2 linked regions of the Homo sapiens genome follow. The protein of the gene in region 1 interacts with the protein of each later gene in a biochemical or structural test. Each region holds a gene or a part of one and is shown on either strand. Other genes may lie near its edges. The genes, in order: PEX10 and PEX12.

Region 1 (3,361 bases):
CACTTCACAAGGACCTGTAAGGTGCACCCACCTTGACGCTCTGCCCCACCTTCCCCAGGGCCTCCTTGGAGGAGAGAGCCGTTTCCAGAAACCCCCTGTGCACCCTGTGCCTGGAGGAGCGCAGGCACCCAACAGCCACGCCCTGCGGCCACCTGTTCTGCTGGGAGTGCATCACCGCGTGGTGCAGCAGCAAGGTGAGGTGGGAGCCTGCTGCCGTCCTGGGGTGGTCAGCGGCTGTGCCGGCAAGATGCACCTGGCTGCAGCAGAAGTGGGGAGTCTGGCTCTGAGCACCCTCCAGTTTTGAGGGTACAGAGGTGGGCATCTTTTTAAAGGCTCCCAGGTAGGTCAGATGTGGGTTCGTTGAGGGGGTTAAAGTTCCAAATTCACGTGTATTGAGGCTTTGCCGAATGCAGGTTGGGGTAGTGGCCAGCCCTGAAAGGCCCCACGCTTGCACCACGCATCCCAGCACACCCTTCCTCCCGGGGTCCTCACCACACTTGAAAACCCTAGCACACTGACTCACACCCACCGAAGATGCCGGCAGGGTGAGAGCGCACGCTTTCCCAGGAGCTGGGCTTCGTGGGCTGTGTCAGCTGCGGGAGCAGGAGGGAACCTCCCGGCCGAGCCCCACACCCTGAGCCCTACGCCCCCAGCCCCGCCCCAGCCCCCACTGGGACTCGGCCTTCTGAAAAAAGGCTGGCTTTCTTGGTCATTAGTTGAAGGAAATACAACATTTATGTTGTGTGTCATGTGCAGAGAATGTGGACAGGAAAAGAAATGCCGATGGGGATGGGCATGGCCCAGTGGCCCCAGCTGCTGTGACCCCCTTTCTCCTCTCCGCAGGCGGAGTGTCCCCTCTGCCGGGAGAAGTTCCCTCCCCAGAAGCTCATCTACCTTCGGCACTACCGCTGAGCCGGCGCCCGGGTGGGCCTGGACACAGATGACCTCTACGGGAGTCTGAACGCCAAGATTTAGTCTCAGGATTAACCTTGCTTGCACAGAAGTTAGAACACTCTCAGTTTTTTGTCATGTAAGATACTAACCTAGCCACCCTGGGAGAGAACAGAAAGCTGTCCCTGGCTGCGCTTTCTCAGCCCTGGGAGGGGCGCCTGAACCCAGAACATTTCCCTAACCCCAACCTGGTAGGACTCAGCCACTTCTTCAGGAATTTCACTTATTTGGACGGGATTTTAGGTTTCCCTCCCTTCCCCAAACCATACAGTTGAGAAGTAATTCAGAAGTAGGCCAGAAGACACTTTATTCGTTTATATTGTGAGAAAACAGCCCCATCAGGCTTGTGTTAAGGCAATGGACTGAATGAGTGCGTGCTGGGTGGGGTGGGGCACGGAGGCTGGCGGGTTGCTTCAGCCAGTGCAGTGAGAACAGCAGCCCCACGGCCCCATGGGAGGCGGCGCTGCTCTCCCCGAGGGCGGCTGGGCAGAGCACATCCCCCAGGACTTGATGACCACACGGGGCAGAGAGAAACCAACCAAGGCCAGCACCTCCGTCGGAAGCATTTGGCACACACACCTTCAATACACGTCAAGGTCGCTTCCAGTTTTAGAAAACAGAAATCTGCATCTCAGCCTGAGACGCACAGAGAGGTCTCTTCCTGACCCAGACGCACTCACGAGCCAGGTCCTGGGGGTATGGGGGCTGCCAGGGGCGCCCGAGCCCTCTCCTGGGGGGCCTGCTGGGCAGGCGACCTGCTGACCCACGGTCACTGCTGTGTTCAGCCCCTCAGCTCGGCCCCAGCCTATTTCCCGCCTCCATTTGATGTTTCCAGGTTTTCAAAACTGCATTTAACCTGCGCCAGAGAGTTCACCGTAGGCATCTTTAATAAACTAACTCCAGCAAAATGTGGGTACGTTACTAACACAAGATGGAACTTGAGATTTCCTGAAGCGCAGTGTTAAAATGCCTCGAGGGCGTGTGCCACATTTCCCTGCTGACGTAAAACACCTGGCCAGCAGGACCGGCTTCCGGCAAAGACCCGCGCAAACCATGTCTTGCTGTTTGACTTACTTAGGAATGAGGATGACCCTGTATTCCTGGGTTAGTCAAGGTCAGCTTGCCAGAGACGGAGGAGGGCGGGGGGGCCGTGACCCTCTAGACTGGGAGGACCACCAGGAGAGGCACTGGGGGCTGCGGCCGGGTGGGCAGATGCCGCCGTGGCTCCATCCATCAGCACCCAGTCCTTTGCTTCACTGTGCTCTGGCCAAGCGCGTGCGACTTCCTGTCACACCTTAGGCCTGAGCGCTTATTAAGAAAACAGTATGAAAAATGACAAACACTCCTGTCCACAGTCTGAGAATCCCAAGTGTCTCAACACGGTACCAGAAGTACCACCTGGGAGCAGCACTGGCTATCTTGGGTCAGGGACACACAAGCTTGAACGTGGCCTCTTAGAGGAGCTCGATGTCAGATATGTAAACACTGGTACAAGAAAATCCAGACACTAAGCATTCACCGTGTCAATTCTGAGACAGGAAACACCGCCCAGAGTGAGGAGCCTGCGCAGCCCGGGGCCCAGGAGGAGAGGCCTTCACTCGCATGTCAGTGTCTCATCTGGGACCACAGCTGTGATGTTCTGCTGTGCAATATGGGTCACCTTTCGAAAAGGCCAAACAAAAGGTGGGCTTTCCTGTGTCCAGCGACTGCCATGTTTTAGGTAAAGACTTTAGTAAAGGTGGAGGTAAAATCACTTGGTAAAACGTTGAGAGTATTTCTTTTCTCGAATCAAAAACGCTGACATGCAAGTGGGTTCCGCCTCTCCCGCAGTGGGGGGCCGAGTGCTGAACCTACAAAGCCAGTCTGCTCCCTGCCAGCTTCGCTGCCCCTCATGGAGGGTTGCATGAGGACAGATTTAAATTAAAAACAAAACACTCTACGTATCAAAGAAATGTGTCAAAATAATCTCAAACAATTAAAATATAATATATATTTATAATTCCGGGCCCTCAAAAGCAATCATGGTAGTTAAGAACCAAGTTTTGAGTCATTAGGATAGAGGCCAACTTTAAACATCTCCAGTGAGATGGAATTAGGAAACTGGCATTAGAACCCCACACAGTTACTTGACAATCACCTTTAAAACGTTAAGTTCTTTCGGACACGCAGGAATCAGGCTAGATCATCCCTCGGGCTCTGTGGAGTGGCTGGCACCACCTGCGGCTGCTGGGGAAGGCGGCTGGCGGGGAGCGGCCCGTTCCTCCCTCGCAGGCCTTGCTCCTGCCTGCCCACCTGGCACAGCGGGGACCGGCCACTCGCCCTTGCTCCCATGGGCTCCACCCGCCTGGCTTCCCGCCTGCAGCTGACTAGAATTCCATCCGTGAGAAACACTTGAACGTCACTGAAAAAG
Region 2 (4,578 bases), on another chromosome or scaffold:
AATCAAGACATCCTGCCTTCCCCTGGCTAAGAGTGAAAGACAGGGTGGAGAGGGAACTTGAACCAAGAGAGGTCAGTCAAAATTTGTATCACGAGCAGAGTCACAAACAGAAATTGGTGGAAGCTCGTTCACTGCAACAACGTTGCCTGGATAAGAACTTCTAATTCCTGTTAGGCAGTCCCAATAGTATTGTTAAGTTCCTGTTCTTTCAGGGCTGGCTTTACTTATTTTGTGAGCTACTCCATACACTTCTAATAAATTCCGTTTTAGTTTAAATTAGCCTGTTTGTTTCTGTTGCTTGTAACCAAAGATCCCTAAGTGACAAAAATGTTTAATTTCCTGCTTGATTTAGTTGATGCTACCTCTCAACTTTGTATTTTTGCTATTCACTTAAGAAAAGCTTGTACATAACAGTTACTATTAAACAAGCACCTAATATGTATCCAGGTGCTTCATATGGATAAACTATGTCTAGTCTTAAAACTCTGTAAGGTAAAAATCATATATCAATATAATGTCTTTTGGTAGAGTAAAAAACACTTTTTATAACTATAATTAAGGACAATTTGTAAGGTTTTCTCTCCTATTGGAATAACTAAATCCAAACCTTGTTTTTGAGGGTTCTCATTATGCAAACCAATTATTTTTATAACATAAGGGCCTCTAGGGCAGTAAACAATACCTTCTATTCCCAGCTATTTAGCCCAGAGGTGGCACTTCCCAGAGGAAGGGAGGAGAGGTGGAACTCTCATCCAAATTCAATAAGGCTGTGTCAGCCAACTTCAGCGAGACAAAGCTGTACATAACATAAAAGCACTTTACAAACCTTAAGGTAAATCACATTCATTTTGGTATAAAAACGGCATGAAAGGAAACTTTCTGTCAAGTGTCCCCAGTGCATGCTAGTTACAATTCATAAAGCTCCCTCTGCGTTAGTACTGTATTCATATCGCTGGTGGTGACATATACAACTGTGTTCAAGGATGGAGACCATTTTCATCCAGTATAGCAAGTGCATGCAGTTATGCTTGAATATAGCCAAAACCTGGAAGACGTTAAACTACCAGCTTGGATGAAAATTAACCGTCTCAAGTACTGAGGAACAAGCATGAACCTTTCTCAATCCAATCATCTTTCCTTATAATTGGCGGCAATAAATCTAAGGCTCCTATCTCCTGCTATGTCGCTTTAAATCATTTCTGGAAGGCTAAGACATATAAATTAACCACCATCCCTGCCGCACGCGTACAGCAAAGTCCTTTCCACCTCCAGATTCCCTTCCTCCCACCGCCCCTAGCTTCATCGCCTGCAGGAACACAGGGCTCAGCAACGGGCCCGAGCTCTGGCTCCCGGCGCCAGACGTCTGCGCGGTGCCCCAAACAGCTTGTCAAAAAGACCTCGCAGAGAGAGGTTCAGAGCTGTAGCTTTCCAGCGAGGCTACCATGCAGACCCAGCTACGAAAAGTAAACCAAACTAGCCAAAACCAGCCCACAAGGGCCCTCTTCTGTTTCAGCGGGGCGGGAGCGGAAGCTCAGGTGGGTCATAGAGTTCTCTAGTTCTGGTTTCCGGACCGCATTCGGAACTAGAGCGCCTCTCTTCCGCCAGGCATCCCAGAGGTCCTGGTGGTTTCATTTCCGGGTGCGGCTTCTGTCATAAAGCGGAGACCTCCCTTCAAACGTGGCGTCGTGGGTTGTTTGCGCCTCGCCTGGGGTCAGCGAGCAAGGACGGGCGCGGGCGGGGATACTCAAAGCCAACAGCTGGAGTCAGCCCTTGTGTCCCGGGCTCACAGTGGCACGACTGAATCCTCAGAGTCGGCTGGCTTTTGAGCTCTCACGATTGGGGAGGAGGGGGCGTTTCTGGTTCGCAGCTCCAGAGGATTGCGTTCCTTCCCCCATACCTGTCCCCCACAGTCACGCTCTGCCCTGACGTGCAGCATTTGACAAGTTACCCCCTCGCCACATACTACTTCCACCCACGTCCGAGTTAACTTTGTTCTTAACCTTCTTGAGACTACCCTCGGCCTCCAGGTCTTTTTTTCCCAGTTCATTTTTGCCCATAAGATTGAGTTTCGAGTTTCAGATATCATGCAGAAAGTTTACCTTTAAGACTGAGCACCCATCTGATACTCTTCCTCCCGAAAAAGTTCATGCTCACGAGAGAGTTTGTGGGAAAAGTGAAAGCCAGTACACGCAGGAAACTATGGCTGAGCACGGGGCTCACTTCACAGCTGCTTCTGTGGCCGATGACCAGCCATCCATCTTTGAGGTGGTAGCACAGGACAGTTTAATGACAGCAGTGAGACCCGCTCTTCAGCATGTGGTCAAGGTAAGGTATTAATTCTTGGAAAGGTTTTAGGGACAACTGGGTAAAAAACAAACGAATAATTTGTGCTTATTTGGTAGCCTAGCGTTTGAAATAGCCAATTTGCAAATAACTTGTATCCCATGACTTAAGAGTTACTGAGTCTCTGTTATGTGTAGAGACCTGTACTGAATACCCAGCATTTCAGGGTCCAACAGTGACTTATTTAAAACAAATTGTGTAGACTTTAGAGGAAAAGGGGGAATGTAAATAGGTGTAGAACTTGTGTAATGGAATGAATTTCACTTATTGCTTTATTTTGCTTTAGGTTCTTGCAGAATCAAATCCCACCCACTATGGCTTCTTGTGGAGGTGGTTTGATGAAATCTTTACTCTGCTAGATCTTCTGCTCCAGCAACATTATCTGTCTAGAACCAGTGCCTCATTTTCTGAAAACTTTTACGGCTTAAAGAGAATTGTAATGGGGGACACTCACAAGTCTCAGAGATTGGCTAGTGCTGGTCTCCCAAAGCAGCAGCTTTGGAAATCTATTATGTTCCTGGTTCTTCTTCCCTATCTGAAAGTGAAGCTGGAGAAGCTGGTTTCTAGCCTGAGAGAAGAGGATGAATATTCTATTCATCCCCCTTCTTCCCGCTGGAAACGATTTTACAGAGCTTTCCTGGCAGCCTACCCATTTGTGAACATGGCCTGGGAAGGATGGTTTCTTGTACAACAACTTCGATACATCCTAGGAAAAGCTCAGCATCACTCACCACTGCTGAGGCTGGCTGGAGTTCAGCTAGGTCGACTGACAGTTCAGGATATACAAGCTCTGGAGCACAAACCAGCTAAGGCCAGCATGATGCAGCAACCAGCCAGGAGGTAAGGCCTTAACATTTCCAAAAGATCTTTAGTTAGTAAATTCGAAAATCGTATCCCAGTTTTGTAAAATTCACCTCCCTGTTAACTTTGTGGCATTTCATAGAGTCATAGAAAAGCTATTCCTTGTGTCCATAAAACAAGGACTGTCATCCTGGTAACCTTCATCATTCTAGGTATACTTTAGTGCATACTTGCTATGTCCCAGGCCCTGTGCTAGGTGCTTGCTTTACGTACATTATCTCAATCCTCAACACAACCCAATGAAGTAAATGTATTAGCTCACAGTTGAGGAAACTAAACCCAAGCAGTTAAGTACCTTGCCAAAGTCACGTAGGTACATAGAAGGTGGCAGAGCTGGGATTCAAACCAAACCAATACAATTCTAAAGACTGTGCTCTGTGAGCCACTGCACCCAGCCTAAGACTGTGCTCTTAATCATGATGCTGTGCTCCTTCTAGTTCATATTTGTGTTCTCCTACAAGTTCAAATATATACATTCCTCAATACTGCTAAGTTTTTTATTAAGTGAATTGGGTTTTTTTTTTTTTTTCTGGATCACTATCTTCCACTAAAAAAAGGGAGGTCTATATAATCAAATTCTCTGATTTATCTTTCAAAACACAAAACCAAACCCTAATCATGTTACTAAAAACAAAGCTTAGCTCCTATGCTCCTAAAATATTGTAAGTTAGAATCACTTAGAATAGATCCTTAAGGAGATAGTACCAGTCTACCAACCATTCAGTCCCCCAGTGATTCTGATGAAAAATGTAAGAATTGCATTTATATTAGTCACTTTGTAATGATACCTAAATAAAGTTTCTCTCTTTGCCTCCTTGTTCTTTTCTCCCAACAGTGTTAGTGAGAAGATAAACTCAGCTCTGAAGAAAGCTGTTGGGGGTGTTGCCTTATCCCTGTCTACTGGCCTTTCTGTGGGTGTATTCTTCTTGCAGTTCCTTGACTGGTGGTACTCATCTGAAAATCAAGAAACCATCAAGTCATTGACTGCCCTGCCTACTCCACCACCACCTGTACACCTAGACTATAACTCTGATTCTCCCCTCTTACCCAAAATGAAGACTGTGTGCCCACTGTGTCGTAAAACCCGGGTGAATGATACTGTTCTTGCCACCTCTGGCTATGTGTTTTGTTACCGCTGTGTGTTTCATTATGTGAGGAGTCACCAAGCTTGTCCCATCACAGGTTATCCAACAGAAGTACAACATCTGATTAAACTCTACTCCCCTGAGAACTGAAAGGGAATCATGTCTTATCCTCACAACAAAAGTATTGCGCTGTAATGTCACAGAGCTGGTTTCAGCATGGTATTGAGTTGACACTTCTCAGCCTCAATTCATAACTATATGAACTTTAAATGATTATATGGATTTCTTT

What was found.
Region 2: the proteins of PEX10 (region 1) and PEX12 form a complex in vitro, tested with the Homo sapiens proteins (one study listed by BioGRID).

What each region holds. Positions count from the first base shown.
Region 1 is NC_000001.11:2,403,317-2,406,677, reverse strand, and holds the end of PEX10 (peroxisome biogenesis factor 10), read left to right. Parts: intron 1-58; coding exon 59-194; intron 195-843; coding exon 844-912; 3' UTR 913-2,704; downstream 2,705-3,361.
Region 2 is NC_000017.11:35,575,643-35,580,220, reverse strand, and holds the start of PEX12 (peroxisome assembly protein 12), read left to right. Parts: upstream 1-1,649; 5' UTR 1,650-2,199; coding exon 2,200-2,325; intron 2,326-2,629; coding exon 2,630-3,183; intron 3,184-4,039; coding exon 4,040-4,439; 3' UTR 4,440-4,578. UniProt on the Homo sapiens protein: Component of a retrotranslocation channel required for peroxisome organization by mediating export of the PEX5 receptor from peroxisomes to the cytosol, thereby promoting PEX5 recycling.